Linked DNA regions of Homo sapiens. The protein of the gene in region 1 interacts with the protein of each later gene in a pairwise test. Each region holds a gene or a part of one and is shown in the gene's direction. Other genes may lie near its edges.

What was found.
Region 2: the proteins of ELOA (region 1) and TRIM37 interact in binary tests that used the Homo sapiens proteins (3 or more experiments, as listed by UniProt).
Region 3: the proteins of ELOA (region 1) and CNTROB interact in binary tests that used the Homo sapiens proteins (3 or more experiments, as listed by UniProt).
Region 4: the proteins of ELOA (region 1) and GMCL1 interact in binary tests that used the Homo sapiens proteins (3 or more experiments, as listed by UniProt).

What each region holds. Positions count from the first base shown.
Region 1 is NC_000001.11:23,746,470-23,753,491, forward strand, and holds part of ELOA (elongin-A), read left to right. Parts: intron 1-2,551; coding exon 2,552-2,608; intron 2,609-3,372; coding exon 3,373-3,479; intron 3,480-4,375; coding exon 4,376-5,561; intron 5,562-5,937; coding exon 5,938-6,049; intron 6,050-7,022. UniProt on the Homo sapiens protein: SIII, also known as elongin, is a general transcription elongation factor that increases the RNA polymerase II transcription elongation past template-encoded arresting sites.
Region 2 is NC_000017.11:58,998,873-59,005,894, reverse strand, and holds part of TRIM37 (E3 ubiquitin-protein ligase TRIM37), read left to right. Parts: intron 1-4,139; exon of another isoform or gene 4,140-4,153; coding exon of another isoform or gene 4,154-4,180; coding exon 4,181-4,297; intron 4,298-6,435; coding exon 6,436-6,518; 3' UTR 6,519-7,022. UniProt on the Homo sapiens protein: E3 ubiquitin-protein ligase required to prevent centriole reduplication. Probably acts by ubiquitinating positive regulators of centriole reduplication.
Region 3 is NC_000017.11:7,927,394-7,935,205, forward strand, and holds the start of CNTROB (centrobin), read left to right. Parts: upstream 1-4,812; 5' UTR 4,813-5,686; coding exon 5,687-5,956; intron 5,957-6,744; coding exon 6,745-6,829; coding exon of another isoform or gene 6,830-6,833; intron 6,834-7,071; coding exon 7,072-7,153; intron 7,154-7,595; coding exon 7,596-7,752; intron 7,753-7,812. Other genes in the region: KCNAB3 (voltage-gated potassium channel subunit beta-3), read right to left, coding at 1-30, 264-301, 390-433, 1,801-2,042; TRAPPC1 (trafficking protein particle complex subunit 1), read right to left, coding at 3,213-3,341, 3,618-3,756, 4,113-4,183, 4,338-4,436. UniProt on the Homo sapiens protein: Required for centriole duplication. Inhibition of centriole duplication leading to defects in cytokinesis.
Region 4 is NC_000002.12:69,825,474-69,832,665, forward strand, and holds the start of GMCL1 (germ cell-less protein-like 1), read left to right. Parts: upstream 1-4,186; 5' UTR 4,187-4,419; coding exon 4,420-4,679; intron 4,680-7,192. Other genes in the region: ANXA4 (annexin A4), read left to right, coding at 1-42. UniProt on the Homo sapiens protein: Possible function in spermatogenesis. Enhances the degradation of MDM2 and increases the amount of p53 probably by modulating the nucleocytoplasmic transport.

The sequences.
Region 1 (7,022 bases):
TGGTGGTGGTGCCTGTAATCCCAGCTACTCGGGAGGCTGAGACAGGAGAATCTCTTGAACCCAGGAGGCGGAGGTTGCAGTGAGCCGAGATGGCACCATTGCACTCCAGCCTGGACAACAAGAGCAAAACTCCATCTCCAAAAAAAAAAAAAAAAAAAAAAAGGATCCTCGTCCTGTGTTACATTTTCACTGTGAAAGCTACCAAGAACATTTTGATGGCAGGTGACATTAAAAATATTTTTTGCTTTTTTGGGTTGAAGGATTGTACAGGGGACAACTGAGATGCCTCAACATGTACCTTGCAAATGTTTGATATTTCTCAGTTGCCTGTTACCAGTTCTTACAAGCTCTATAGTTGGTATCTTGTTTGATAACAGCAAGTTTCGATCCACCTGAGGATGCCCAATGTGCCTTTGCCTTGTTATTGCTTTGTTCTTTCTTGAAATTTACTGAAAATAGAGGGGTTGTGAAGTCCTTTTTTCTCTTGTGTTAGACTAAATGAGTCTGAAAATCTTGAGGGTTTTAGTTTTGTCTGCTTTTAAATCACCCCTAATAACCCAAAGTAAAGCAGAAAGACAGGATTTGTTCTTCCAGTTAGTGCTAGGCTTTGAGATAAACACACCCACAGTGACTTCCAGCCTCATCCTTATATGTTGGCTTTGTAGAGGTCCTGGGACACCTTTGTTCCCTTGGTGACCTCCTTTACTATGTGGGTTCTGAACTGTCTAATGACATCACAGGAGGAGTTTTTCTGCTTTCTTGCAAGTATGCTAAGAAGTATATGTGCTGCCGCTCTATTTTCATTTCCTAAGGACAGTGTTCTGATGTTGGATGCTTCTCCTGGCTTTACTTAACTGTAGTAGACACATTTGACTTTCCAGCTTGTTAAGCAAGTTACCTAACCTGATTGGGTTCAGTTGCAATATCTGTCAAATGGGGAGAATAACATCCACTTTATAGAGTTGGTTAGTGGGAATGAAATGAGGTAACGTGTAAGAGCTTAGTGTAGTAGCTGACACACAATAGATGGTATGTGAATATTCCCAACCTACCCCTTCCAAGGAATGGCATTATGAGAGAACCACTTGTTTTTGACCTTTTCAGTGATTTAAAATTTTCCTTTAAGTGAAGGAATTGGCATTAGTCTTTGCACCCATAGCTTGGGTGGCAAGAAACACAAAATTTTTCCTGAGTTGGATGATGGTGGTGATAGGATTTGAAGTGGGGGATAATTTTCACTCATCTATGAAGGTGAGACTCCCTAGATATGCCACTTGGCCTCTTACTTGATCTCAAGATTATCACTTGTGATCCAATTGCTCTGTCTGGTGACCATGTTAAGTAATGATTGAAGTAGAATGACCAGAAAAACAGACTTGTTACTCCACCTAATAGCAATATGGCATACCAATTATAGTCTGGGCCACACATGGTAAAAGCAGATCTTGTTATATAATATTTAAATGCAAAGGTAACCACAGTTATCTATTTTAAACTACTTGTATTTTGAAGCACTCCTTGTATGGTAAGTATGTTTAGATACACGTAGACATTTCCTAGAGAAAGGTTTGGCCAGTCATAACTTTTGTTAGAGCAAGTAGGAATTGGCTGAGGAATATCTGGTTGAAGATCAAGGGCAGAACGCTGAAAGCTGTCAGTCGATGAATGAAATGATAAGTATTTAGTGAGCTTTCATAGTGTTCTAGACACTATGACTAAGGACTGCACATGGTTTGTCTCTGAATCCTCATAGTTTGTGAAGTAGAGACAGGACCAAGTTCCTATTTTGCAGATGAAGTAACTGAAGTTTGGGGAGGTTTTTGACTTATTCAAGATCACTCATCGAGTGACAAAGCCAGATTGTCAAGCCTGTCTCTGACTCCAGAACTCCATCTTAACAGCTCTGCTGTACTGATTTTGACCTAGTTTTAGGAACTATAGGAAGGAAATGTGATCAAACCCAGATCACTTTTCTAATCTACCCAGGCATTTTGTGTCCACCGTTAACATCCAAGCTCTGATTCTGGCAACTTGAAATTACTCTTGGCTTTACACTTATGTAGAAGAAAACAATTCTGTTAAACACTGTGGCCCTTCTGGAAACATGATGGTCTTTTCCTGTAGAGGCCTTTTCTTCCTTTTACTTCCTCTGTGCCAGGTCCATGGGTAATTCCCCTAAAATTGGTACCTTTCTCATAAATTCTATCAAAACTAGGGCAAAAATGATAGTTGTTGATGGCTTTTATCAGAGTTGGTAAGTTTTGATTCTCTTCTCTACATCTTATTTCCCCTTGGTGTAGCACAGTGGTTGAAAGCAGGGAATCTAAAGCCACAGACCTGAGTGAATCTTGCCCCACTTGCATCTTGGGACAAGAAACATAACTTTTATGAGCCTATTTTCATACTTGTAAAATAGGGATATTACTTACTACTGTAAATAGGCATAATACTTATACTCATTACTGTAAATGGTTAGCACTAAGCACTTAATAATCAGATATTCTTGTTAAAGTGAATTTGACTATTGAAATTAATGTTTTCTTCTCTGCAGCTATTGAAATATTTGAAGAAACTCTCCACCCTGCCTATTACAGTAGACATTCTTGCGGTAAGAACTGTGTGACTTTAAATATTATATAATGATATCCCATTCCCTTCTCACTGGAGAGTGTGTAGAATAAGGTTACAAGTATGGGCTTTGGAAGTGAAAGAAACCAGACACAAAAGGCCATATATTGTCTGATTCCATTTATATGAAATGTCCAGAATAGGCAAATCCATAGACAGAAAGTAGATTAGTGGTTGCCAGGGGCTAGGAGAATTGGGAGGAACAGGATTTCTTTTTAGGGTAATGTAAATGTTCTGGAATTAGATGGTTATAATGGTTATATAATATTGTGAATGTTCTGGAAACCACTGAATTATGTACTTTAGTTAAAGTGGTGAATATTGTTAAATGACTTTATTTCAAAATTAGAATTAAAAGAACATTGACTTTGGCATCAATTAGTCCCAGATTCAAATCTGAGTTCTATGACTTTAGGCTGTTCCTATGTAAAATGGGTCTGATTCCTGCTTCACAGGGTTATTGTAAAGACTGATTCAGAACTGTATGCAAAGCTCTTATCTTAGTGCCTAACACCTGCCCTAATCACTCTTGTTATTAAAGTTCTGAACTTGGTACGCTTTGCTACTGTGTGTCATTAGAGATTTGGGGCATAGACACAAAGTAATTTAGTGTTAAGATTTGCAGGGTATGTTGTAGGAAGGAAGTATTGCTTGTTGAGTTTCTCAAAGTAGAAAGCCTTATTTCTTTAGAAAAACGTTAGCCTAGTTCCAGACCCCTCTAACAATTACTTTGTCAAATTTTAGGAGACTGGGGTTGGGAAAACAGTAAATAGCTTGCGAAAACACGAGCATGTTGGAAGCTTTGCCAGGGACCTAGTGGCCCAGTGGAAGAAGCTGGTTCCTGTGGAACGGTAAGAACATTTCTCTTTAGGTTTGTTCAATTTCATGGTTAAATTTACAGATAGAAAAGGTTTTCTTTATTATTTCTCTTTTGCCTTCTGAAATTGTTTTGCCTCAATTATAAAAAATAATCCATGATCATTGTAGAATATTAGAAAATATTAAAAATAGAAATCAAAATTTCCTATTTCTATCACGCAAAGACAAACGTTATGAACATTTTGGTACGTTTCTTTTTTTTTTTTTTTTTTTTTTTGAGACAGAGTCTCGCTCTGTTGCCCAGGCTGGAGTGCAGTGGCGTGATCTCGGCTCACTGCAAGCTCCGCCTCCCAGGTTCACGCCATTCTCCTGCCTCAGCCTCCTGAGTAGCTGGGACCACAGGCACCCGCCACCACGCCCGGCTAATTTTTTGTATTTTTAGTAGAGACAGGGTTTCGCCGTATTAGCCAGGATAGGATGGTTTTGATCTCCTGACCTCGTGATCTGCCCGCCTCGGCCTCCCAAAGTGCTGGGATTACAGGCGTGAGCCACCGCGGCTGGCCTGGTATGTTTCTTTCTAACTGCTCCTTAAATGGCATTTTTTTAAGTTGTGAACTAGATAAATAGTGAGCAGCCCCCATTTTATATAACAAATTAAACATGTCCCCATGTTTTAATAAATCTCCACATTTTCATGTATATGAGATATTTGATCTTTGCATCTTGTGGTTAAACTCACCATTTCTCATTTGGGTTTTCCCAGTTTTAAGATTTGAGTATCTTTAAGCATAACCTACTTATCTTCTTCTTAAGACCTTGTTGTTTCTAACTCTGCATCTTCACTTCTTTGGTGAGTTCAGATTCTGTGACTTTGTCCCTCAAGAAGCAAGATTTAGACCTACTTTGTCTGCTTTTTCTTTTATTTTAGAAATGCTGAGCCTGATGAACAGGACTTTGAGAAGAGCAATTCCCGAAAGCGCCCTCGGGATGCCCTGCAGAAGGAGGAGGAGATGGAGGGGGACTACCAAGAAACCTGGAAAGCCACGGGGAGCCGATCCTATAGCCCTGACCACAGGCAGAAGAAACATAGGAAACTCTCGGAGCTCGAGAGACCTCACAAAGTGTCTCACGGTCATGAGAGGAGAGATGAGAGAAAGAGGTGTCACAGAATGTCACCAACTTACTCTTCAGACCCTGAGTCTTCTGATTATGGCCATGTTCAATCCCCTCCATCTTGTACCAGTCCTCATCAGATGTACGTCGACCACTACAGATCCCTGGAGGAGGACCAGGAGCCCATTGTTTCACACCAGAAGCCTGGGAAAGGCCACAGCAATGCCTTTCAGGACAGACTCGGGGCCAGCCAAGAACGACACCTGGGTGAACCCCATGGGAAAGGGGTTGTGAGTCAAAACAAGGAGCACAAATCTTCCCACAAGGACAAACGCCCCGTGGATGCCAAGAGTGATGAGAAGGCCTCTGTGGTGAGCAGAGAGAAATCACACAAGGCCCTCTCCAAAGAGGAGAACCGAAGGCCACCCTCAGGGGACAATGCAAGGGAGAAACCGCCCTCTAGTGGCGTAAAGAAAGAGAAGGACAGAGAGGGCAGCAGCCTGAAGAAGAAGTGTTTGCCTCCCTCAGAGGCCGCTTCAGACAACCACCTGAAAAAGCCAAAGCACAGAGACCCAGAGAAAGCCAAATTGGACAAAAGCAAGCAAGGTCTGGACAGCTTTGACACAGGAAAAGGAGCAGGAGACCTGTTGCCCAAGGTAAAAGAGAAGGGTTCTAACAACCTAAAGACTCCAGAAGGGAAAGTCAAAACTAATTTGGATAGAAAGTCACTGGGCTCCCTCCCTAAAGTTGAGGAGACAGATATGGAGGATGAATTCGAGCAGCCAACCATGTCTTTTGAATCCTACCTCAGCTATGACCAGCCCCGGAAGAAAAAGAAAAAGATTGTGAAAACTTCAGCCACGGCACTTGGAGATAAAGGACTTAAAAAAAATGACTCTAAAAGCACTGGTAAAAACTTGGACTCAGTTCAGAAATTACCCAAGGTGAACAAAACCAAGTCAGAGAAGCCGGCTGGAGCTGATTTAGCCAAGCTGAGAAAGGTAACCCCTTCAGCCCCTTGGTGGCTTCCCACCCAGAGCACCTGGCCCTGCAGAGCTCAGAGGATTGCCCTGCCACTGTTTTCCTTAGCTTGCTTTTGGGGGGCATGTTGAATTTCAGTGTGCAGTAATTTCCTCTGGGCTTCACTGGTTGTCAGGGTATATGGTACCGCAAATAAGAATTTTCTGCATTATTCTCTTGTGATGGGCTCATCTGTATTTATTTCCTGACTGAGGTGGTGTCAGACATGACTGTGGCCCCCTCCAACCTGGATCTTCCTGTGCAAGATGTCCAGTTAATGCTCCCGGGAATAGACTGTAGGAAAGAGAGCTGTGCTTCTACTCACTGACTCTCCACCCATGGGTCTGTCCCCTGCAGGTGCCTGATGTGTTGCCAGTGTTGCCAGACCTCCCGTTACCCGCGATACAGGCCAATTACCGTCCACTGCCTTCCCTCGAGCTGATATCCTCCTTCCAGCCAAAGCGAAAAGGTAATTTTCTATATCTTCTTTTTCTTAATGGGAAAAAGATTTAAAAATTCATTCAAGGCAGGGTACAGTGGCTCACACCTATAATTCCAGCACTTTGGGAGGCCGAGGTAAGAGGATTGCTTGCGGCCAAGGGTTCTAAACCAACCAGGCGTGGTGGCTCACTCCTGTAATCCCAGCACTTTGGGAGGCCGAGGCGGGCAGATCACCTTAGGTAAGAAGTTCGAGATTAGCCTGGCCAACATGGTGAAACCCTGTCTCTACTAAAAATACAAAAATTAGCCAGGCATGGTGGTGCGTGCCTGTAATCCCAGCTACTCCGGAGGCTGAGGCAGGAGAATTGCTTGAACCTGGGAGGTGGAGGTTGCAGTGGGCCGAGATTACGCCATTGCACTCAAGCCTGGGTGACAAGAGGGAAACTCTATTTCAAAAAAAAGGAGTTCTAAACCACCCTGGTCAACACAGCAAGATGCTGTCTCTACAAGAGAAAAAAAGTAGCCAGGCATGGTGGCACATCCCAGGTACTCGGTAGGCTGAGGTGGGAGTATCACTTGAGCCCAGGAGTTCAAGGCTGCAGTGAGCTCTGATTGCATCACTGCACTCTAGCTTGGGTGACAGAGCAAGACTGTTTCAAAAACAAACAAAAAAACTATCACCATAACATCAGATTTTTGATGCATTTCCTAAGTGCATAGACTCTGAAGTTTGATGGCTTGGGTTTGAATCCCAACTCTGGTTTCTGCAAGTTATATGACCTTGAGAAATATCTTAATTTCTTTGGACCTTAGTTGTATATATTGTGTAAATGGGAGTTATAATGGTATCTGCCCCATAGGGCTCAGTTTAATGAATTCAGAAGTGATGCCTTTTTGCTCTGGGTTTATCACATAGTAATTGTTCAGTAAATTGCTGCTGCTGTTATTAGCAGCCCTTTATCCTATGTGTTACATAGGATTTTTGTCTGAAAGAAAAAAAT
Region 2 (7,022 bases), on another chromosome or scaffold:
TATAAATATCGCCGTTTTATGTGTGTTCATGGCCCTGTCTGCTGCTAAGTAAATAATAATGAGTTTACACATGGTATACTTAATAAAAATTGATTGGTGTTCCAAGAAAGATTTTGAAGCAAAATCCTTATATTGGCATTTTTATTAACATGTGATTCTGCATAGTACTGTAAACCTTGCTGAGTTCTAAACGTGACATTATTCACATACTACCCAGTAATACCCACATGCAGTCTAGCATTTGAATATTCACTATAGGCCTCAGCTCTTACAAATACTAATTAAATGATTTGTTTTAAAGATACACATGTAGGCTGGATGCGGTGGCTCACACCTATAATCCCAGCACTTTGGGAGGCCGAAGCGGGTAGATCACAAGGTCAGGAGTTCGAGACCAGCTTGGCCAGTATGGTGAAACACATCTCTACTAAAAATACAAAAAAATTAGCTGGGTGTGGTGGCACATGCCTGTAATCCCAGCTACTTGGGAGGCTGAGACAGGAGAATTGCTTGAACCTGGGAGGTGGAGGTTGCAGTAGGCTGAGATCACGCAGTGGCACGCCAACCTGGGTGACAGAGTGAGACGCCGTCTCAAAAAAAAAAGATACACATGTAATGAATAGAGTTTGAAAAATGTATTTAATAACTTTTTTAAAAGAATAATGTAGATTTGGGGAATTCCAGAGAATTCCAATTCATTGTTTTTGAATCCTGAAGGTTGGTATTTGTCGGGAATTCAGAAACACTACTAATAAGAGGTCAAATTTGTGCCTTGAAGTTCAACTCAGTGTGTTTTAGTGTTTTCAGCAACAGTTCCATGAAGGGCCACAAGGTGGAGGTGGTGCTTCACAGAACTAGCTAGTTTTGGCCTCTTTAACCGTCTCTGCTCTTTTTCTTTTTCCCCTACTTCATAAAATTGTTGTAAACTCTTCACTCTTTTAGAACAGGAAAGTTTGTTTTTTTGTTTTTTTGTTTTGCTGAAGATGGAGACGATTTCTAAATATTTAAGGCTGAAATAATGCTAACCAAACTCTTCTTAAAAAGAGAAAAGGAAGAGTGTACCACTGAAGCCATGTGGGGCCACAGTTGCCTTTGTTGGAAGCTTTTTAAACTAGAGCAGATTTTATTTCTTTAAGAGTTAAAATACCCATCGATTTTTCCTTGAGTAACCTTTGGTAGTTTGTACCTAGGAAAGAATTTGCTCATTTCATCTGTTTTTGGTTTCATGAGCATACAGTTACTGATAGCATTTTATTATATTTTACTGTTTATAGAACCTGTAGTTGATGTCCTCTTTCATTCCTGATATTGGAAATTTTGTTTGCTCTCTTTTTGTTAGTGAATCTACCTAGAGGCTTTTTTAACTTTATCGATCTTTTCAAAGAAACACCATTTTGTTTCATTGTGGTTTTTTTGTTTTTCTGCTGATTTTATTATGTTTTTTATTATTTCCTTCCTTTTACTTGCTTTGAGTTTAATTTCCTTTTTCTAGTTTCTTAAAGTAGTAGTTTAGATTATTGATTTGAGATATTTTCTCTTCTAATATAAATAATGTCATACCTTTCCTTTTAAGCACTGCTATAGTCACATCCCACAAATTTTGATATGTTTTATTTGTATTTAATTCAGAATGTTTTTTATAATTCTACAAAATTTTCAACTTTTTTCCTTTTATCTATTGTCTCTCCTTTGTTATTTTTGCTATCTCTATGGCATTCTATTTGACACAATTTAGACCAGTCCCTTTATCCCCTTCATTCTTAATTCTTCCTTCCTTCCTCTGTCCCTCAGGGTCTTGTGTTCTGTTACCTAGGCTGGAGTACAGTGGTACAATCATAGCTCACTGCAGGCTTGAACTCCTGGGCTCAAGTGGGCCTCCCTCCTCAGCCTCCCTAGTAGCTAGGACAATTACAGGTGCACACCAATGTGTGCCTGGCTAATTTTTAAATTTTTTTTTTTTTTTTTTTTTTTTATAGAGATGGGGCTTTGCTAAGTTGCCCAGGCTAGTCCCAAACTCCTGGGCTCAAGCGATCCTCCTGCCTCAGCCTTTCAAGTAGCTGGGACTACAGGCATGTGCCACCAGGCCTGGCTGATGAGCATTTTATCTAGCTTTAAAGCCCTTAAATAATTCCAGACATCTGTGTCATCTCATCATTGATGTTTGTTGGTTGTCTTTCCTGGTTTTTCATATGCTGAATAATTTGGGGTTGTATCCTGAACATTTTCATTAGGTTTTTTTTTTTTTTTTTAATAAGACTCTGGGTCTTGTTTTAATCTGCCAGTTTTGCTGTCATTCAAATTCAGTCTTCATCAGTATGCCTGTTTCTATTTACTTTTCAAAGTAAATAACTATGAATATCCTTAAATAACTACACTACCCATCTCTCCAGGTTTTATTGCTACTTTCAGTGGAAAAGATAGAGTGGAATGTGCTTGCTCCATTGTACCTAGAACCTTCCTTCCAGAGAGGATTTTACTTTTGCTTTATTCAAATAACACTAGCTCCTGAACAATTTTTATGTTAATTTCTTAAAATTTGAACCTCAACCTTAAATCCCAAACCGAAATTAGGCACATAAATCTTACTTTGAATTTTGAGGTAAGACTTTTTTCCCCCTCTTCAGAGCCCAGTAGAAACAGACAAAATTCCTTGCTGTTTTCCTATGCCAGTAGGCAGACATTTTTCTAGTCTGTTCTTTCAATAGGAATTTTAGCATTGGCCAGGCATGGTGGCTCATGCCTGTAATGCCACCACTTTAGGAGGCCAAAGCGGGTGAATCACTTCAGCTCAGGAGTTGAAGACCAGTCTGGGCAACATGGCGAAATCCCATGTCTACTAACAAATTACAAAAATTAGCCAGGTGTGATGGCACAGGCCTGTTGGGAGGCTGAGGTGGGAGGATCATCTGAGCCCTGGGAGGTCAAGGCTGTGGTAAGCCATGATTGCACCACTGTACTCCAGCCTGGGTAACAGAGTGAGACCCTGTCTCAAGAAAACAAACAAAAATTTTAACATTATGCAGGGGGTGGAGTTTTAGTCTCACTTTTAATTCCCTTTCTGTGGGGGGTTCATTTTTCTATCCCAAGGCAGTGTTTAAAAATCCTCACAGGAAGCTCTCCAGGGCAACTGTGGTCCCTGACCCACTAATGAAAGTTCCTTATCTTTCTTTGTTTCTGACACTGTGGATTTCCTTTCTGCCTTTTAATGTGCTTGTTCATTAAAATAATGTTTTACATTTATATTTTATCTTGCTATTTGTAAGGATTTGTAGCAGAAAGATTTTCAGGTTTTCTTGATTGCTATCTTGCTGAAACAAATACTTTTTATAGAATTATTCTTTTAAAAATCAACTGATGTGGCCAGGCACAGTGACCTGTAATCCCAGCACTGTAAGAGGCTAAAGTGGGAGGATCTCTTCTCAAGCCCAGGATTTCAAGACCAGCCTGGGCAACATATTATAGCAAGACCCTGTCCCTCCAAAAAATTTTTAAATTAGCAGGGCATGGTGTCATGTACCTGTGGACCTATCTACTTGGGAGGCTAAGGCGGAAGTATCCCTTGAGCTTAGGAGTTTGAGGCTGCAGTGAGCTATGATCAGGCCACTGCAGCCCAGCCTAGGGTGACAGAGCGAGACCCTGTCTCTCAAAAAATAAAAATAAATACAAATCAACCGACATACACAAAAAAATTAGATGCCCAATTAGAATACAAACTATTATTAGAATTGCCAGAATTTCTAATATTCATACACCATGTGGATTTGTATAACACATTTATATTTATGTTTTAGGCTAGGGAATATAATTATGTCTATAATGAATCAGGATTAAAAGAGTTCCTGTTATCTCTTGTGACTGAAAAAAAAACAGTGTTTGATTTGGAAAAAAGTATTATCAGTATAATAAAATTAATGCTGGTTTCAAATAATAACTTTCAGGTACTATGGAAAGGGCAATTTTAAACTTTGAGAACAGAAATAAAACCACTCTAAATAGCTAAAGAGAATCGAGGTTTGTGCGGTTACTTTTGTCTTTGTTTTGTTAGTGTTTAGTTTGTTGAATTCTTGGCATTCCATGTAAAATTCAATAGGAATCTCAGTTTAGCAGATACGGAGATTTCTGTTTCCTTTTACTTACAGTGGTTTCTTTTCAGAAACATGTTCTCCTTCCTTCCTGCCAGGAATGAGTAGCGACAGTGACATTGAATGTGACACTGAGAATGAGGAGCAGGAAGAGCATACCAGTGTGGGCGGGTTTCACGACTCCTTCATGGTCATGACACAGCCCCCGGATGAAGGTGCAGCACATGATGTCATTTTACACAGATTACTAAAACCACCGCTGCCGCTTCTCTTTCTTCTTCTTCTGCTGCTGCTACTTCTACTTTTTCCGCTCTACTGCTTTTGCTTCTTCTGCTTCTACTTCTTTTTTTTTTTTTTTAATTATTGTCATTTGTGAGACAACATTCTTTGGTTAACTATTATGGTGAGTACTAAAAAAACACAGCCAGTAATATTTGGCTTGGTTGCACCTAATGAGTGCTACTTACTGGGCAGAGACGGGGTCCACAACCTGCTTTTGTATAGTCTGTGACCTGAGAATGGTTTTTACTTTGTAAAGAGTCTTTAAAAACCAAGCAAAAGAAACAAAGAAGAATTTTCTTTGTGGGTTTTTTTTTTCTTTTTTTTTTTTTTTGCCCCGAGATGGAGTCTTGTTCTGTCACCCAGGATGGAGTGCTGTGGCGTGATCTTGGCTCACTGCAACCTCCGCCTCCTGGGTTCAAGCGATTCTCCTGCCTCAGCCTCCTGAGTAGCTGGGATTACAGGTATACACCACCACGCCTGGCTAATGTTTTTGTATTTTTAGTAGAGATGGAGTTTCACCATGTTGGCCAGGCTGGTCTCGAACTCTTGACCTCGTGATCCACCTGCCTTGGCCTCCCAAAGTCCTGGTATTACAGGCGTGAGCCACCGTGCCCAGCCCAAAGAAGAATTTTCAAGAGAGTCCATTTGTGGCCTACAATGCCTAAATATTTACCCTTCATAGGAAATGATTGCCAATCCCTGGGGAGATTTCAGATGTTTGGGTTTTTTTTCCTTTTCTAGCCTACTGTAAGATAACTTTAACCTTTTAAAATAAAAATAACTTAGAAATACATGCAGATTATGAAATAATTTTTATTCCCTCCTACCCCCAAAAAAGTTATTAGGAAAAAAACAAGAGAAACCTACTATTAATATTTTCCCTTGTTTTCTTCTGTCTTATTTGCATTGCATTTCTTCTTCTTTTTTTTTTAGACAGAGTCTTGCTCTGTCTCCCAAGCTGAAGTGCAGTGGCACAATCTCAGCTCACTGCAACTTCTGCCTCCTGGGTTCAAGCAATTCTCCCACCTCAGCCTCCTGAATAGCTGGGACTACAGGCATGTGCCACCACATCCAGCTAGTTTTTGTAATTTTTAGTAGAGACAGGGTTTCACCATGTTGGCCAGCCTGGTCTCGAACTCCTGACCTCAGGTGATCTGCCCACCTTGGCCTCCCAAAGTACTGGGGTTACAGGTGTGAGCTACCATGCCAGCCCTACCTAAATATTTTATAAATAGTTTTTTATTCTGCTTTTTTCACTTAAATATATTTGTATGTTATTTAAAATTTCATAAACTTCATTTTTTATGGCAACCTAATATTCTATCATGTGGATATACCATAAGTATTCTGCTGTCAAGCAGTTTTCTGGAATACAGATTAATCAGTAAAAGGATATACTGTCAAGTTAGAGAAATACACATTTAAAGTTACCCAGAGGCCTTAATAATCAATCTGAACATTCCTCTGCAAGATATCCTGGAGTGACAACATTGTTAAGCCTATGCCATTTTCTGCTTTATATTTTGCATATTTTCCTGGTGCTCTGGTATCTTTTTCAATACAGAACCAAGCATTTGATGATTTGTAAGTATTAAGGCATCTTTAGTAACTTCCTCTGCTTCTAAAATAAGCATCCAAATTTTGTGCAAGTTATTTGGAGTGCTGGTGGGTTTTTGTAGTGATACTTGAATGCGTAGTTTAATTGGCTTTGAAATATGTTTTATGTTTATAAGGTCTTGAATCTTGAGAATATACACCATTGCTTCTTGTTCCCTTTTTAAGCTGTCCCCAGATTGTCCCCAGGAGGACAAAATGAGACAATTCCTGTCATCTTTTAATTGTGGGTGTCTATTACACATTTTGTTTTTTTCTCCTTTATTTTTCCTTTGTGTTTGCTTATACCTGACTCAGATCACAAATTCTCTGAAGACAGAGATTTGTTCACAACCCAGCACATCTTTATCACTTAAATAACACATTTGGTAAGATTATTTAAAGACTTGGGAAGGAAAATACTGCCCTTGTTATATGCTTTTAAATTTTAAATTTTTTATTTATTTTTTAATCATAGATACACATTCCAGTTTTCCTGATGGTGAACAAATAGGCCCTGAAGATCTCAGCTTCAATACAGATGAAAATAGTGGAAGGTAATTGCCAAATCAAGAGAACTGACTTGCAAGCTACCTTGACCCTGAATTTTGCTGTAGTTGGTGCTCAAATTTGTCATCAGTCAGATAATCAGATTTGGTCTTATTTCTTCATTATCTCGACCTGAAATAGTAATTTGGAAACTGTTGGAAGGTGGCACAGTTTAGTCTAAGACAGCAGTAGTACATGGGAAAAACAGTATGGGAAGAGTTCTTTGTAATGTAAGGAAATAACAATGTAGTTCTCTATTAATTTAGCAAATTTGTACATTCACAAAAGGCAGTTTGTCTACTACAGCAGAAGGCTGGTTAACTGCCAGAAAATGTACCTCCAGGCCCTGCATGCCGTCAGTAACCCGCCCGGCATTGGTGCTCTACTGTCTTTGGCTAGAGCTTAGTTGTGTTTAAATAATCATCTTTATATTTGGGGTTTTAATTACAGTTCCATTAGTGCCTGTAGATTAGTGAACAGAAAATTGCTTTGGAAGAGATTCTGCCCTGTAGACAC
Region 3 (7,812 bases), on another chromosome or scaffold:
ATAGGCTACAGTCAGCACATCCTCTGCTGTCTAGGGAGGTGAAAGAGGTAAAGATCAACTACTGCTCCTCAGTTACCTCCCTCACTGTACTCTAACCCATCACATCTCAGCCCTGGGTTCTCTAGTCTCTCCCCTCTCCCCATCCTCCAGCCTCAGATCCCTCATTCCCTGTGCTTGTTGTCCAAACCCCTATCCAGGTTCACTTCCCTTTTTTCAAGTTCCCTCACCCCCACCACCCTGATTCTAGGTCCGATAACTTATACCTCATCTGAGATCTGAGAACCAAATGTGACCCAGGTACCTGCAAGAGAGAAGCCAGGCACATGAGAACTGCAGGGGGCAGACCATGAAAGAATGCCCTCCTTTCCTTAATCCCTATTCTGACTCACCTAGGCCAAGACAGGATACCCGAAGACCAGACTTCCCTAGGTTCCTGCAAGATACAGAAGCAGCGGGAAGGGGTGGAGCCTCCATTATGGACTTAGATTATCAGCCCCCAGCTCCTCTCCTTCCAGACTGAGAAGCCCTCAGGTGTCTCAGTCCAAAGAAATTAGACCCAGTGGGCCTATAAGATTGGGCAAGTGCTATCTCCAGAGCAGAGGTCCTAGGAATTTTCTCAAAAGGACAAGTGAACCATATGTGACTGTTCCTCTGGAGCCACTGTCCAGAGTCTCCATTCCCTCTTATCACATTGAAGACGTGCAGTCTGGTTTGTCCTTCTTCTGGGGTCTTGTCTGTGTTTGAGTCATCTGTGGGTTGTGTGCAGTGAGGGGCTGGGAGGAATTTTGTTTGATTGTGGTGAGTTTGTGAGACCAGGCCCTCAGGCAGAGTGCTGTGCCAAATGGTAGATGGCAGGTTGGAAGAGGTAAACCAAGTCAAGTTCAGGCATTCAGACAGACAGGGGTCCCTGGCTAGGCTAGGCAGATGGGCCTGGAGGAAAGGCAGATTGAGGACCTGGGGGGAGGGGGGAGAGTAAGACAGAAAAGCCTAGTTCTCCCTCTCCACTCCCTCTGTTCCTATTGACTTGTGAAGACTGTCTCTGAACCAGTGAGCCCCCTCATCCTCCCAAAGCCCCCAACCCAGGTGTCAGCTCAGCTTTCCAATCAGGGCCACCATATAGAGGGGATCAGATTCCTCAGGTGACAAAGCAGGTCAGATCAGTGACCTCAGCTCACTCCCAAGCAGGAGCCCCTCCTCTACCCCCTACTTCAGGTTCTGAGCTTCTGGTCTGGCAGTCCTCTGAGATAAAGTCAGTTACATTTCAGTCTACCCAGACCCTGTCCCTCAGCATGGAGATGAAAAATGTGGTCCATCCTTCCCACCGGCCCCACTCCCCTTGCACCCAAGAAAGGTCGCAGAAGACCTAGCCTTTGGGGCAGGCAGGGGCAGTATCTGGGTCAGGCACCCCGAGCAGGCCAGAGTGAGAAGCTGATTCCCTCCCTCCACTCCCCAGGACACGGACCCAAGGACACTCCACTGGAGGAGGCATAGCCTGGAGATCCGTGTAGCGTGGAGATCCATGCATCCCTGACCTTCCCAGGGGTAAGGAGGGAAGCTCAGGGGCATCCCCTGGGTCTGACAGGACCCAGTCAACCTTGGTAAACTTGATTCTCGTAGTCAGGGGTATCGACAGAAACCAAGAGAGGGACAAAGTGAGGGAGTGCCAGAGACAGAAAGAAGAGATGGAAAGAAGGGAGACCTACTTAGTGAAGTTTGAAGGGGTCTTGGCGGCCATCTCAAGCAGTCTCAGGGGTCCCGAAAGGAAAGCGGAAGGGGTGGGCTGCCCGGCCACCCCCATACCTGTATTTCATGCCAGTGCCTCGGCCGGTGCTCTCTCGGAGGGCCCCAGCGGGCGCTGGGGGTCGGGGAACCAGTGCAGCTCGGGCCTTGGGGCCAGACCCTCCACCCCCCGGAGGATTCCCGTGCCCCCCGCCGGCCGGCCCACCATTACCGCCCCCGGGGCCCGGCCGGGGTCCACACAGACGGTCCTCACTGCTCCGGCTGCGAAGGTTCTGCTCGGTACACGCGATAGACACCTGCATGCTGGCTGGCCGAGGCGGGGGAGGGGGCTCCGAGGGGACGGGAGGGGGGAGCAGGGAAGCCCGAGGGCTGACGACCGGGGGCGTAGTGGGGCGAACCCCGGCAGAGCGGGAAGGCTGAGGAGGCTGCGGCGGGAGCCGCCAGGCAGGATCGGGCCCGCGGGGGCGGGCTGCTGGAGGTCGCGAGGTTTGCGGCGGGAGGGAAGAAACGTGGGGGGCGCCAGGAGTGGAGATATTCAGTTACGGGGGACACAGGAGCAAGGATTAGGAGGGGGAAATGGATGAGGGTAAAGGTCGAGGATGAGGTAAAGGTCTCGGAGGATAAGGACCCAGGGGGAAGCGGGGCGGGAGAGAGATGCCACTTCAGCGCGAACCGCTGCGGGACCCGCTGGGCTCCCAGCCGCGTCGGCAGCGGGCCCAGCTCATCAGCATGCAGGCACCGCCTCCTCATCTGCATAGAGCCGCCCTCCTCTCAGCCAAACCTGCCGCTCATCTGCATAAGCCCCGCCTGCTGAAGGCTCTGCAGCTTGAATATTTTCTGAGCGGAATTGGGGAGGATGGCTCCTGCACCCTCTGGGACCCAAGGGCTGTCAGGCTTCCCCCGGCCCAGTGATTCTCAATCGGGAGGGAATGTATCTCCCAGCGTACTTTCGGCAAGGTTTGGAGATATTTTTGATTTCATGCCTGTGCTATCAGCATCTAGTGGGTGGTGGCCAGGGATGCTAAAATCCTACAAAGCACAGGACGGTCCCCACAATAAAGAATTATCCAGCTCAAAGCATCAATATTCCCACGGTTGAGAAACCCATCCGCAAAGCCACTTCGTGGCCCTCCAGGGGGTGTGGCTGCCCTACTTTCCACCTTCATGCGTGGGGCAGGACTGAGAGGGCCCTCAAACCAACACGCTCAGGCCGCAGAGAGTGACAAAAAGTTTATTCTGTGCTTCTCGCAGCATTAGGCAGGGGATAAAACTGGAGAGAGGGCCTGGTGTGGAGGTGGAGGGACTCTGTGGGCTTCACTCTGGTAGGAGGAGAGCATCAGGGCAGGCCTTTAGGCTGTTGCTCTGGGCAGGGGGTGGGGGTGCGGGGGCTTACAGTGGGGGCCCTTAGTTGGCACAGGTTCGGAAGGGCCCCAGGCAGACATGAATTCTCCTGAGACTTGAGGTAGGTTGCTTCAGCCAGCCCGGGCGGAGAAGAAGGGCAGAGAGCGAACATAGGAGTCCAGTCGGGAGCGAAAGAGCTCACTTTGCACAGTTTGGCCCAGCGGGCACAGGGGATTCTTCACCACCAGCTCCACATACAGCTATGGAAAGGGAAGATGTTAGAGCCAGGCTTTGGATACTTCTGGTTTTTAGCCCCAAACCTTGTATAACCTCAGGGGTGTGTGAATGCACAAGGAATAAGGGCTGGAAGGCAAGCCCTCTCTGAGGAGAAAGTGGTGGTGGGAGTTAAGAACCTAAGGGCCCCTGAGAAAACTCTTGAGTTGAGCAAACATATAGTAGGATTGGGGCAGGGGAGATGAGGGAGTCTTGGGGTTCTGAAGAGCTCTGGGGGATGGGTCCCTGGGGCTGGCACTGACCGCACTGTAGATGTGGTGCAGCACATCTCGGATGGGTCCCACGCCCAAGTCAGTATTCATGACAACTTTGATCCCAGTGGGCGTCTCGTAGTAATGGAGTTTGTAACGGCTAGTTTGGAAGGCCAGGAAGCCATCCTTCCTGCAGAGATGAGGAGGGTGTTAAAGAATGGGAGCAGAATCTCTCCCAAAGAGACACTTCTGATCCCCGCAAACATCGACTCCCTCTTTATCTAAACATATCCTTTGTAGAAGCCTGGTTGAGTAAAGACATCGCCCATCGTCACCCCTCAATTTAGCCCCCACCAACTTCTCTACTTTCAGACCCTCCCCACCCCCACTCCTGCCAGCTCCAGCACTCTCGCTCCGGACTCAGCCTCTCTTAAGTACCCTTTCCCCCCTCTGGAGGCCAATGCTCCTTCCACTTCAGAAAGTTTCCCCCATCCCCAAATTCCCAAGGCTAGCCCTCCTCCCAACATCTTCTCTGACTCCGCGTACATGTCTAGCGGGGACATCTTGCTGACAAACGAGCGGATAGAGAAGAGCATCCCGTACATCAGCTTATACTCCTGGAGGGAGAGGGGCAGAGTTAGCTCTCGGTTGATGCGGGAGATGGGGTGGGGGGTGGGAACGAGCTGGGGTTTGGAGAGGAGGGGCTGGGTTGGGACTATAGGTGTTTGGAGATGAGAGGTCGCCCGGGCTGCACCGGGGCCCTCTCGTCACCTCCTCCTTGGGAATCCCTGCTTGCTTCTTGCGGTGCCATTCGCTGTAGTGCAGACACACTCCATTCCGGTCAAACAGGTACAGGTTGTGGACAGTCATCTGCAGGGCAGGGAGTGTGAGCCTCGCTCCGGGGCCGCCCCCACTCCTTGGGCTCGGGTTCCCGGACCCACAGCCTTCCAACCAGGTGGGGACCCCACCCACGGACTCACCGGAACTGCTCCGAGTGCCCGTCAAGAGTTACTTCCGGTTTCCACGGAGCTCCGCCCCTTAGGGGGGTTCTCGCTCGGCCGCGGCTGGGCATTAACTCCGCTCCAGTGCTGCTTGTCAGACTCCGCCTCCCTCCCTCAGCCAATCTGTGGCCACCGGAGCCGCGCACGCGCGGCCAGGCGCTCGGGATACAGAAGTGATGTGAGTGTCTGCGAGCGTGGTCTCGCGGGCGGGTGACGTCATCGAGGCGAGAGAGGCGGAGCCGTGGACAGTGGGCGGGAGGCTGCCAACGGTTTTGAGCGTAGGGGGAGGCGTGAGAGGGGGATCTCAGGGGAGGAGGTCAATCGCTTGCCCCCCACTTTGGCAAATTGGGGACTGAGGACTGGAAGGGTGGAGAGTAGGCGGAACCAGGTGGTCGTCGGGGCAGAGGATCTCGGGCTAGGCTTGAGGGCGGCGTGCTTCTTAGGGACGACTTAGGGCGTGACTGAGGGTTCACAAGGTTTCTTTTGGGGTGGTCGGGAGGGAGAGATTCTAGGGAACAAGGAAGCTCGCTATGGCTTTCTTGCCAGGAGGGGTCGAAGGGAAAGTACAAGGGAGCTGGAGCTGACCCTGGGTAGAACGGGTGAAGGGATGGGGGAGCGTGAGGTTCCGCCCTCTCTTGAGACTGGAACCAATTGAGGGACTAGTAGGGCAGGGGGACAGAAATTGGGCTCCTAGTGGATTTGGGTCCGTTTCCGTTGGGACGTTTTGGGTGTGAGAACTTAAGAGCTCAGTTGACCGGGGATAGCCTGTGCCGGAGTTGATCTGCAGCTTCCAGCACTCGTAGTCGGGAAGAGGAGCTTCAGCAGCGCTGTTGTCCCACAGTAGGTCTTCTGTCCGCACCCGCTCTGCGCTGCACCCTCTTAACGCTGTTCCCAGGAGCTGGGGAAAGGGATGCTTTTGCCCACTCCCATGGCCCCTGGAACTGGTGGAAACCTTTCCTCTAACCAGAAAGCCTCGATATCCTTAATTCACCAAGGATCCTTGGCGTGGAGTCTTCCTCCCTTCTCCCAAGTCTTTCTCCGTGAACTTTTCCTCCTGGACTTTGCTAAAGCAGAACCTCCCAGCTCTTTGCTGTCTCCGGTTGTCTCTTCCCTGTATTCATGGCAACATCAGCTGACAGCCCCAGTTCACCCCTCGGGGCGGAGGATCTCCTGAGTGATTCATCAGAACCCCCTGGGCTCAACCAAGTGTCGTCTGAAGTGACCTCCCAGCTCTATGCTTCTTTGCGCCTCAGCCGGCAGGCGGAGGCCACGGCCCGAGCCCAGCTGTATTTACCCTCCACCTCCCCGCCTCATGAAGGGTTAGACGGCTTCGCCCAAGAATTGAGTCGAAGCTTGTCAGTCGGATTGGAAAAGAACTTGAAGAAAAAGGTGAGGGAAGTGTGTCTTGGAGACCACTGTGGCACTAGACACCAGAGAGTCTTGGGATTGGGGTTGGTAAAAATAAAAAGCTTTGATGAGATTTGAACTCTTCCTGTTGGATTTCATATTCCTTTTAACTGCATAGGCAGCCATGCTTATAAGGGAGGGAGTGACCTGGGACACCATAATTTGAAAATTATGAAACTTCCCAGTGTTTTTTTGTGAGAGACATCTCTGCTCCGAGTAGATAGAGCAAACCTATGGGGTAGGTTGGTGAGCTATTTCCCGTGCACTGGGAATGGGTAAGGTTTCTTGATCCCAAGAGGGAGCTAGGGACTTAGGATAGCAGCTCCGATCCTTCCAGCTCAACACTATGTTGATAGTATGGTTCCAACTTTGGCATGTACATCATTAAGACATAGCTTAGTCAACTACAACATGTTACAGAGAAGATAGTTATTAGTATTGTATAGAAAAGGTGTCAGAGTCAATTTGCAGACTGGTTAGGTCTTCCAGAGTTTGAAAATGATAGCCATAAGCCATACAGTCCTTACATTTGTTCTTGAATCGGCAAGAATCTCCGCAACTCTTGTCTTATACCTCCTCGATTATTTTATTTACACTCTCTTTCTGGCTTCTGTAGTATTTGAATTTCTGATTCAAGTTTAGGACATCCCTTATTGGATCCGTTTGGTTTTTCTTGTTTTCCAAAGTGCTGGAGTGAAAATTCTACCCTGGCAATAGGTAGGAGATAGATAACACAGACTGCATCTGATTTCCATGTGGCTTTTTTCCAGGATGGTTCTAAGCATATCTTTGAGATGGAAAGTGTTCGGGGTCAGCTCCAGACCATGCTCCAAACCTCACGTGATACAGCCTATCGTGAGTAAGCCCCTTCCCTAGAACTATGAAGGAGAACCTAGATGTAAGGGGTGGGAGAAAGTGGACAGAGGAAGCAGGCAGGAAAACCTCTGAGCAAGAGATTTCAGGAGAAAAGTCTCCCGTTCTTTGGGAGAGGGGGTGAAGGAGTGAGGGAACTGGAAAGGAAGGCCTTTTCTCTTCAGGTGGCCCCTGTTTTTGTCATTACCTGACTCTGGCTTTGGGGTCCCTCTGGCTGCCTGCAGGGGATCCTCTCATTCCTGGCGCTGGCTCAGAGAGACGGGAAGAGGACTCCTTTGACAGTGATAGCACAGCCACCTTGCTCAAGTGAGTTCTCCTTGTGGTTCTCCTAGCTTGTTTGCTTTCTTGGAAATCCAGGTGTTTTGTTCCTTATTTCTCCCTTTATTGCTTTTGTACCTCTTAAGAACCCAAGAGGCTTATCACTTGCCTTTCAGTTTTCATCTTTTTCTACTGTCTCCTGCCCCCTTTACTCCTTCAGGAACACAGGTATCTGTTGCCTAGTACCTGGCTTTCTCTTAACCTGCAGTCATTCTTCCCCTCTAAAGAGTTAGCTTGTTTCTGCTGAAACCTTTAAGTGAATCACAGACCTGTGTGTTATTTATAGCACTATGGTTATATAGCTTTACGACTTTGGACAAGTCTCTTGCCCTCTCTGGGTCTCAGTTTCCTCATTTGTAGAATATCACAGTTGGACAAGTGGATTCCAAAAGCTTTCCCAGCCCTAACATTCTCTACCTGATTTGCTCAGCACCCGGCCCCTGCAAGACTTGTCTCCATCTAGCTCAGCCCAAGCCCTGGAGGAGCTGTTTCCCCGCTACACCAGCCTTCGGCCAGGGCCTCCACTCAATCCCCCAGATTTTCAGGGGCTGAGAGATGCATTGGATTCAGAGCATACCCGCCGCAAGGTAAGATGCAAACGCTTCCTTTCGAAAGCAGCAAAGATTAGAAAGAGGGGACCCAAGTGT
Region 4 (7,192 bases), on another chromosome or scaffold:
TACAGGAAAGTACTGCTTGTTCTCTGTGGAGGAGATGATTAAAATAAAAATCCCAGAAGGACAGGAGGATTCTCAACACTTTGAATTTTTTTAACTTCATTTTTCTACACTGCTATTATCATTATCTCAGAATGCTTATTTCCAATTAAAACGCCTACAGCTGCCTCCTAGAATATAGACTGTCTGTATTATTATTCACCTATAATTAGTCATTATGATGCTTTAAAGCTGTACTTGCATTTCAAAGCTTATAAGATATAAATGGAGATTTTAAAGTAGAAATAAATATGTATTCCATGTTTTTAAAAGATTACTTTCTACTTTGTGTTTCACAGACATTGAATATATTAAATTATTCCATATTTTCTTTTCAGTGAAAAATTTTTTAAATGGAAGACTGTTCTAAAATCACTTTTTTCCCTAATCCAATTTTTAGAGTGGCTAGTAGTTTCTTCATTTGAAATTGTAAGCATCCGGTCAGTAAGAATGCCCATCCAGTTTTCTATATTTCATAGTCAAAGCCTTGAAAGCATCTACAAATCTCTTTTTTTAGGTTTTGTCCATAGCATCAGTTGATCCTTACTAAGTTTTTCATGGGAGACTTCCTTCATCACATCTTATGTTGAAATCACTTTCTGTAGTCAAAGTATACCAAAACCAATTTATCTGAACTAAATTCTAAAGTATGGTTATACAAACCATATACATCTGGTTACCAAACATAAATGCTGAACATTCCATATTATTATAGTTAATGTCTTAATCCAGCTTGCAAGTGAATGGAAAAAAAAATAAGCTTCAAACTAGGTATTCTGGGAATGATGTAATGCTCTGAATTTAGTATGATATAAAGAAAACTTTTTTGTGCTAAAAATACTTTTTAAAATCAATTTTGTTGATTGTAGTAATTTCTATTTGCACTGTGCCTTTCAACTCCAGAAACATTCTGAAGATGTACTTGGATTTAATTAAAAAGTTCACTTTGTAAGAACGTGGAAAAATAATTTTAATTTAAAAATGGTGTTTTTAGGCCGGGGGCGGGGGCTCACGCCAGTAATCCCAACACTTTGGGAGGCCAAGGCGGGTGGATCACCTAAGGTCAGGAGTTCAAGACTAGCCTGGCCAACATGGAGAAACTGCATCTCTACTAAAAATATAAAAATTAGCCGGGTGTGGTGGCTGGTGCCTGTAATCCCAGCCACTCGGAGGCTGAGTCAGGGAGAACTGCTTGAACCCAGGAGGCAGGAGGCAAAGGTTGCAGTGAGCCGAGATCACGCCAGCCTGGGCGACAGAGCGAGAATCCATCTAAAAAAAAAAAAAAAAAAAGTGTCTTTAAAGTGAGGTATAGTCTTTCTCTGATCCACTTTTCACCTTCTGAGGTTTTTCATCTTGGCCCCTGAAAGGAGCTATTTTTGAAGGACTTGTGTTACTCAGTTTCTACAGGAATTACAAGATAAGAAAAAAAAAATCATATTTAGTCTTATGCGTGCCTACTGGCTAATGTTCACATATGCCAAACACTACTCAATAACATAAAATAATGTATGAACTTATTCTCTGGAAATGAGTGATGCCCTCTGCTCTAAGTAGACCATTTATATTAAATATCATAAATGTATAAAGGACATTCATATTCTTATAGTGGGAATACTTGCCTTTTTTGTTGATTTTATAGCATCCATTGTATTTTGGTGAGTGAAATAATAAGAATTTTTTAGTTTAGTGTTGTTTATTATAAAAGCTACAGCTACTGGTAGAAGCTACTTATGTGAATATTTAGTCACTCCAGTTACTTACAGGAAATAATACTACCACTTCAATGCCTTCCCAGAAGACCACAGAATCTCCACATCAGCTTTGTCTTTGGAAGCATGGTGATTTTTTTGGTAGAAGTTTTATCTTTAAATGATATGTAGCTTAGCCAAAATTTTAAAACAAATAGCATTGATTCACCAGAAGATTTCTAGAAGGTGGGATAAAGTCACCCTGGACGAATGTTTGTCATATTGAATTAGCATGACTTTGAGATATAATTATGTTTGTTTTTCCCTCCCACTGTCCACTTACATTTATTCAGTGGGCAGTTCTTCCCCTTCTTCAGATGTAAATTCAGATAGAGTCATGACTTTTCTGTTCACTCTTAGGTTTTAAAGTCCTACTGTGTAGTCCCTTAAGGTCATAAAACAGTGTCATTTTAGTAAGTAATATATCCAGTCAAAATTGCAAGCTTGATTTACAGTTGATGCTTCTTCCCTCACTCACCTCTGGCCTATTGCAAGTAGGAAGCTGGTTTCTGGGGAAAGGGAGACCATGGGCTTCTCTTCTTTTTCCACCTAGGTTTCCTTCAATGTTCTCCCCCTGCCCCAACCTACCATGTCTGGGTTGTAGCAAAGAAGAGAGTTAAGGGGAGCAGGAAAGTTGTTACCTGACTGTCATTGCTGTGGTGGTAGAGGATCAGCCCTATGTGACCCTGACAGACTAAAGTTGATTCTTGTGGGCATTCTTGTGGGTTCCTTTGTCAACCTCATCACGCTACTCACCTGAGGTTCCTCTGGCAAGGCAAATGTGTACTCCTTTTTCAGCCTCTAGGAATTTGGTGACTCTTTGAGGTTCTCAGTGCTGAAGTTCATTGCCTTCCTCCCAGGCCTGTTGGGCAGGACCTAAGCTGTCTCATGGTGGTCCACATCTGCTCCATGGGAAACACCTGCACGTTCTTTGTGCTGGCAAATTCTGTGTATGCAAGCTGATCCCTCTGCAGCCATTATTCTCCGCCTCCCACCTCCACCCCAAGCTGCCTCGGCTAGCCTCTCTCGGTTCAGATTTCTCATGCATGAATCAGACATTAGTCCACGGGGACCCTCAAACTACGTATACTGCCAATGGGAGTCTAAATTGGTACCTTGATGCAATCAACCCAGAGAGCAATTTGGTAATAGCTAACAAAGTTGCAGATTTCGCAGCAAATTCACTTTTGGGAATCTGCTTGGTGAATCCATTGCACATGATGTTCATTGCTGCTCTGTAAGGCCGTTAAAGTAGAAATAACCTCTCTCACTAAGGAATGTAAAAACAAATATGGGTCAGTCATACAATGAGCAGTGAAAATTATCTAGCGATTGACCAAATGGATAAATCTTGAGAGTATAATTTTGAGAGAGGAGAAAGGTGCACAATGAGAGGTACAACTATGATTCCATTCCATGATATGTCTAAACATGCAAAAGAAAATATTATTTATGGGTATGCATATAAGGACATGCATGGACATGATATACAACATTCTCAGCACAGTGATTGCCACTGGGGAGGGAGACAGAATGAGATGGAGGAGGTACGCAGGGGCTTCTGCCTATATGTATTGTTCTATTTAAAAAAGAATGAATCATTGATTACACCTCAATAAAGCTGGGAGGAAAAAAGAATGAAAGCAAGTCTGATAAAATTTCAAGCTAGTGGTCGGTCCACAGGAATCTGTATTACTCTATTTGAAATATTTTCATTATTTTACTTAAAAAGTAACAGAAGGGAGTCAGGGAATGAACGCTGGCTGTCCGGAGTCCATCACAAGAGCTGCTACTACTCCAAGCAGACACTAGTAAATTTTGCTAGGGCCTCCTGAAGGCACTTTTGAGTCCAGACAGTCATGGTGCCAGACCCTATTCGGACATCCCACTGGCACTTGAGAGGAAAGGAAAGGAGTGCCGGGAACGTTCCCATAACTTAACGGGTTCCATTCACGTCTACAGCAGGGGAGGGCTCATGTTAAGGAAGCCCAGGAATCCAGCATATCGCCTCATCCTAGGGCCCCCTCTCACAGGAGGCCACGCCCAAGCAAGCAGAGCGTGGCCCCAGCAAGCGCCGAGCTCCCGCAAGGAGACCAAATAGCTTCGGGGTTTTGCCACTAGCTTAGCACAGGCCCATAAGCACCGGGGACTCAAGGCACCTTTGTAGAAACAATGAGTGACTGGAGTCCCAGGTCTTGCCACTACAGAGGCGCGTATGAACCACGGTTTAACACTACGTCTACGCCGAAGTTCGGGTTAGTCAGAGGCCACGCCCACCGCAGGCCCGAAAACACCAGCCTGCACTGGCGCGCCGGATTGTGCGCAGGCTCCACCTGCCACGCACGCACGCCTTGCCCCGCCCCTTCCGGAGGCTCGCCGTACGCATGCGCCCTCCGTCCCGCGCTTTGTTGCGAAAGCGAGGGGGCGAGGTGCTGCGGTGCTAGAGCGCGGCGCGACCGGACGCTGCGGGCGGGGAAGAGGATGGAGACTGTGGCGTCCGCTGCAACGGTTGGGGCTGCGCGTGAGAAGGTGGCGGTGTAGGCACCTGCGCTCGGGGAAGGCTGGCGGCGGCGGCCGAGCCATGGCGGGAGACCCCCTTCTCTGGGCTCCCTGAAGTCTCGGGGAGCCGTGACCCATGGGATCGTTGAGCAGCCGGGTGCTGCGCCAGCCAAGACCAGCCCTTGCCCAGCAGGCGCAGGGTGCCAGGGCGGGGGGCTCGGCCCGGAGGCCGGACACTGGAGACGATGCGGCGGGCCACGGATTCTGTTACTGTGCGGGCAGCCACAAGCGCAAGCGGAGCAGCGGGTCCTTCTGCTACTGTCACCCTGACTCGGAGACGGACGAGGATGAGGAGGAGGGGGACGAGCAGCAGCGGCTCCTCAACACCCCTCGAAGGTACGTGGGGGCACGCACCCGCGCGGACCCGGACCCGCACCTGTTGGGCCTGGGGCCGAGCCGGCGCCTCGTGCGCTTGCGGGGTGCAGCGCTCCCCAGCCTATGGAGAGGGGACGTGCCCTTGACAGGGTGAATGTGGAAGCCGGCCCGATGCGGGGCGGACTGGGGAGCGCCTTGGGAGACGCCAGGTGTTCCGCATTTTCAACCACAGACGCTTCCAGGGTGTTGTTACAGCCCCAAGATGAGGATGAGAAACGCCAAGCCCGAGCTCGCGTCTCGTTAAACCTTAGAGACGCCCGGCTGGCTGGCCTTCCCAGTCCACCTTTGCCCTCTCAAGTGGGTAGCCGCAGAGTAAGTTGTTTTGCATCCGGTTGCCTTAGTACAGACACTAAATGTAATCTCTGAAATAGGCACTCTTATTGTCGCCCACTCAGTGGAGGGTAAGTAATTGCACACAGGAGTTCTTGTTAATTGTAAAGGTGAAGTTTATCAATAGTGTACATTTGTTCCTAACTAGGAACAGAGTCTGTGCAAGTTTCTAGTAGTTGATGAAGTCGTTGACCGTGGATGTACTGTATGTAGGGCGGTGCTGCTGCAGCTTGTTTAACCCCTTTTTTTTTTTTTTTTGGATGAGTTGAAAGATGGAATATTGACTTGTGACCTGGAATGTAGTTTATAGGTAGAATATATGCTTACACAAACAATTTGGTTTTTCTGCTTTTGTTTTTAAAGGTTATTTGGTAGGGTCACACATGAAATTTTTTAAATGATTTCTTTTTCTTTTTGAGACAGAGCCTTGCTCTGTCACTCAGGCCGGAGTGCAGTGGTGCGATCTCAACTCACTGCAACCTCCACCTCCTGGTTCAAGCGATTCTTGTGCCTCAGCCTCCCGAGTAGCTGGGACTACCGGCGCGCACCACCACGCCTGGCTAATGTTTTCTGTTTTTAGTAGAGACAGGTTTCATCGTGTTGGCCAGGCTTGTCTCAAATTCCCGACCTCAGGTGATCTGCTGGCCTCAGCCTCCCAAAGTGCTGGAATTATAGGCGTGAGCCACTGCGCACCCGGCCTAAAATTAAACTTTAAAAGCAGATTCAAAAAGGTTTTGCTATACAAGTGTTATATATTGTAAAAAAGGAATCATAGATTAAAAACTTAATAGTTTGGTTTATAAAACCTTTTGTACCTTTTTTTGTATGAATATTTGTATTTATTATACAAAAATGTACCCCTACTGTGAATACTATTCAGTAACTTTTTTAATTGTTTGTTTGATTTTTGGAGCTTTTTTCTAAAGGAGTCTCACTATATTGCCCAGGCTGGTCTCAAACGCCTGGGTTGAAGCGATCCTCCCACCTAAGCCTCCCAAAGGGCTGAGATTACAGGTGTGAGCCACCATGCCTGACCCTGTAACCTTTTTGAAGCGTCAGTGTAGCATAGTTTTTTTTTCCTTTGGAAAAATTTTTCTCTATTTTGAGACAGGGTCTCGCTGTGTCGCCCAGGCTGGAATGCAGTGGTGGGATCATGACTCACTCTACCTCGACCTCACAGAATCAGGCAATTCTCCCACCTCAGCCTTCTGTGTAGCTGAGACCACAGGCATGCACCACCACACCCAGCTAATTTTTTTATTTGTAGAAACAAGGTCTCACTCTGTTGCCCACCCAGGCTGGCCTGGAACTCCTGGGTTCAAGTGATCCTGTTGCCTTGACCTCCCAAAGTGTTGGGATTACAGGTGTGAGCCACCATTGCCAACCTATAGCATAGTTTTAAGAGTTCTGAGTTCTTGGCCAGGTGCAGTGGCTCATGCCTATAATCCCAGCACTTTGGGAGGCTGAAGCAGACAGATCACCTGAGGTCAGGAGTTCAAAACCAGCCTGGCCAACATGGCGAAACCCTGTCTCTACTAAAAATATAAAAACTAACCAGTCGTGGTGGCAGCTGCCTGTAATCCCAGCTACTCGGGACGCTGAGGCAGAAGAATGGCTTGAACCTGGGAGGCGAGGTTGCAGTGAGCCAAGATCGCACAACTGCACTCCAGTCTGGGTGACAAAGTGAGACTCTGTCTCAAAAAAAAAAAAAAAATTCTGACTTCTTGTCTGTATTCTGCACTTAATAGCCTTATTTCCCTCATATGTAAATTGGAGATATAAATACCTGCCTTTTAGGCTTTGACAAATATGAGAACAAACAAATGCACAATGTCTAGAATGTAAGCATGCAGTAAATATGTCTCCTTGATGAATTGGCCCCTTTATCATAACAAAATGTTCATCCTTCTTTATCCCTAGTAATTTAGCCACTACCACATACATACATACATATATACATTTATTTATTTATATTTAGGGGGTACAGCTGCAGGTTTCTCACATGTATATAACAAGTAGTGGTGAAGTCTGGGATTGTAGTGTATCCATCAGCCACTTTCTTTTGATAAATGTCTGAATGATATCTTATTTTCCCTCCTTTCACTTTTTACCTGTGTATATTTAAAACAGATATCAAGTAAACA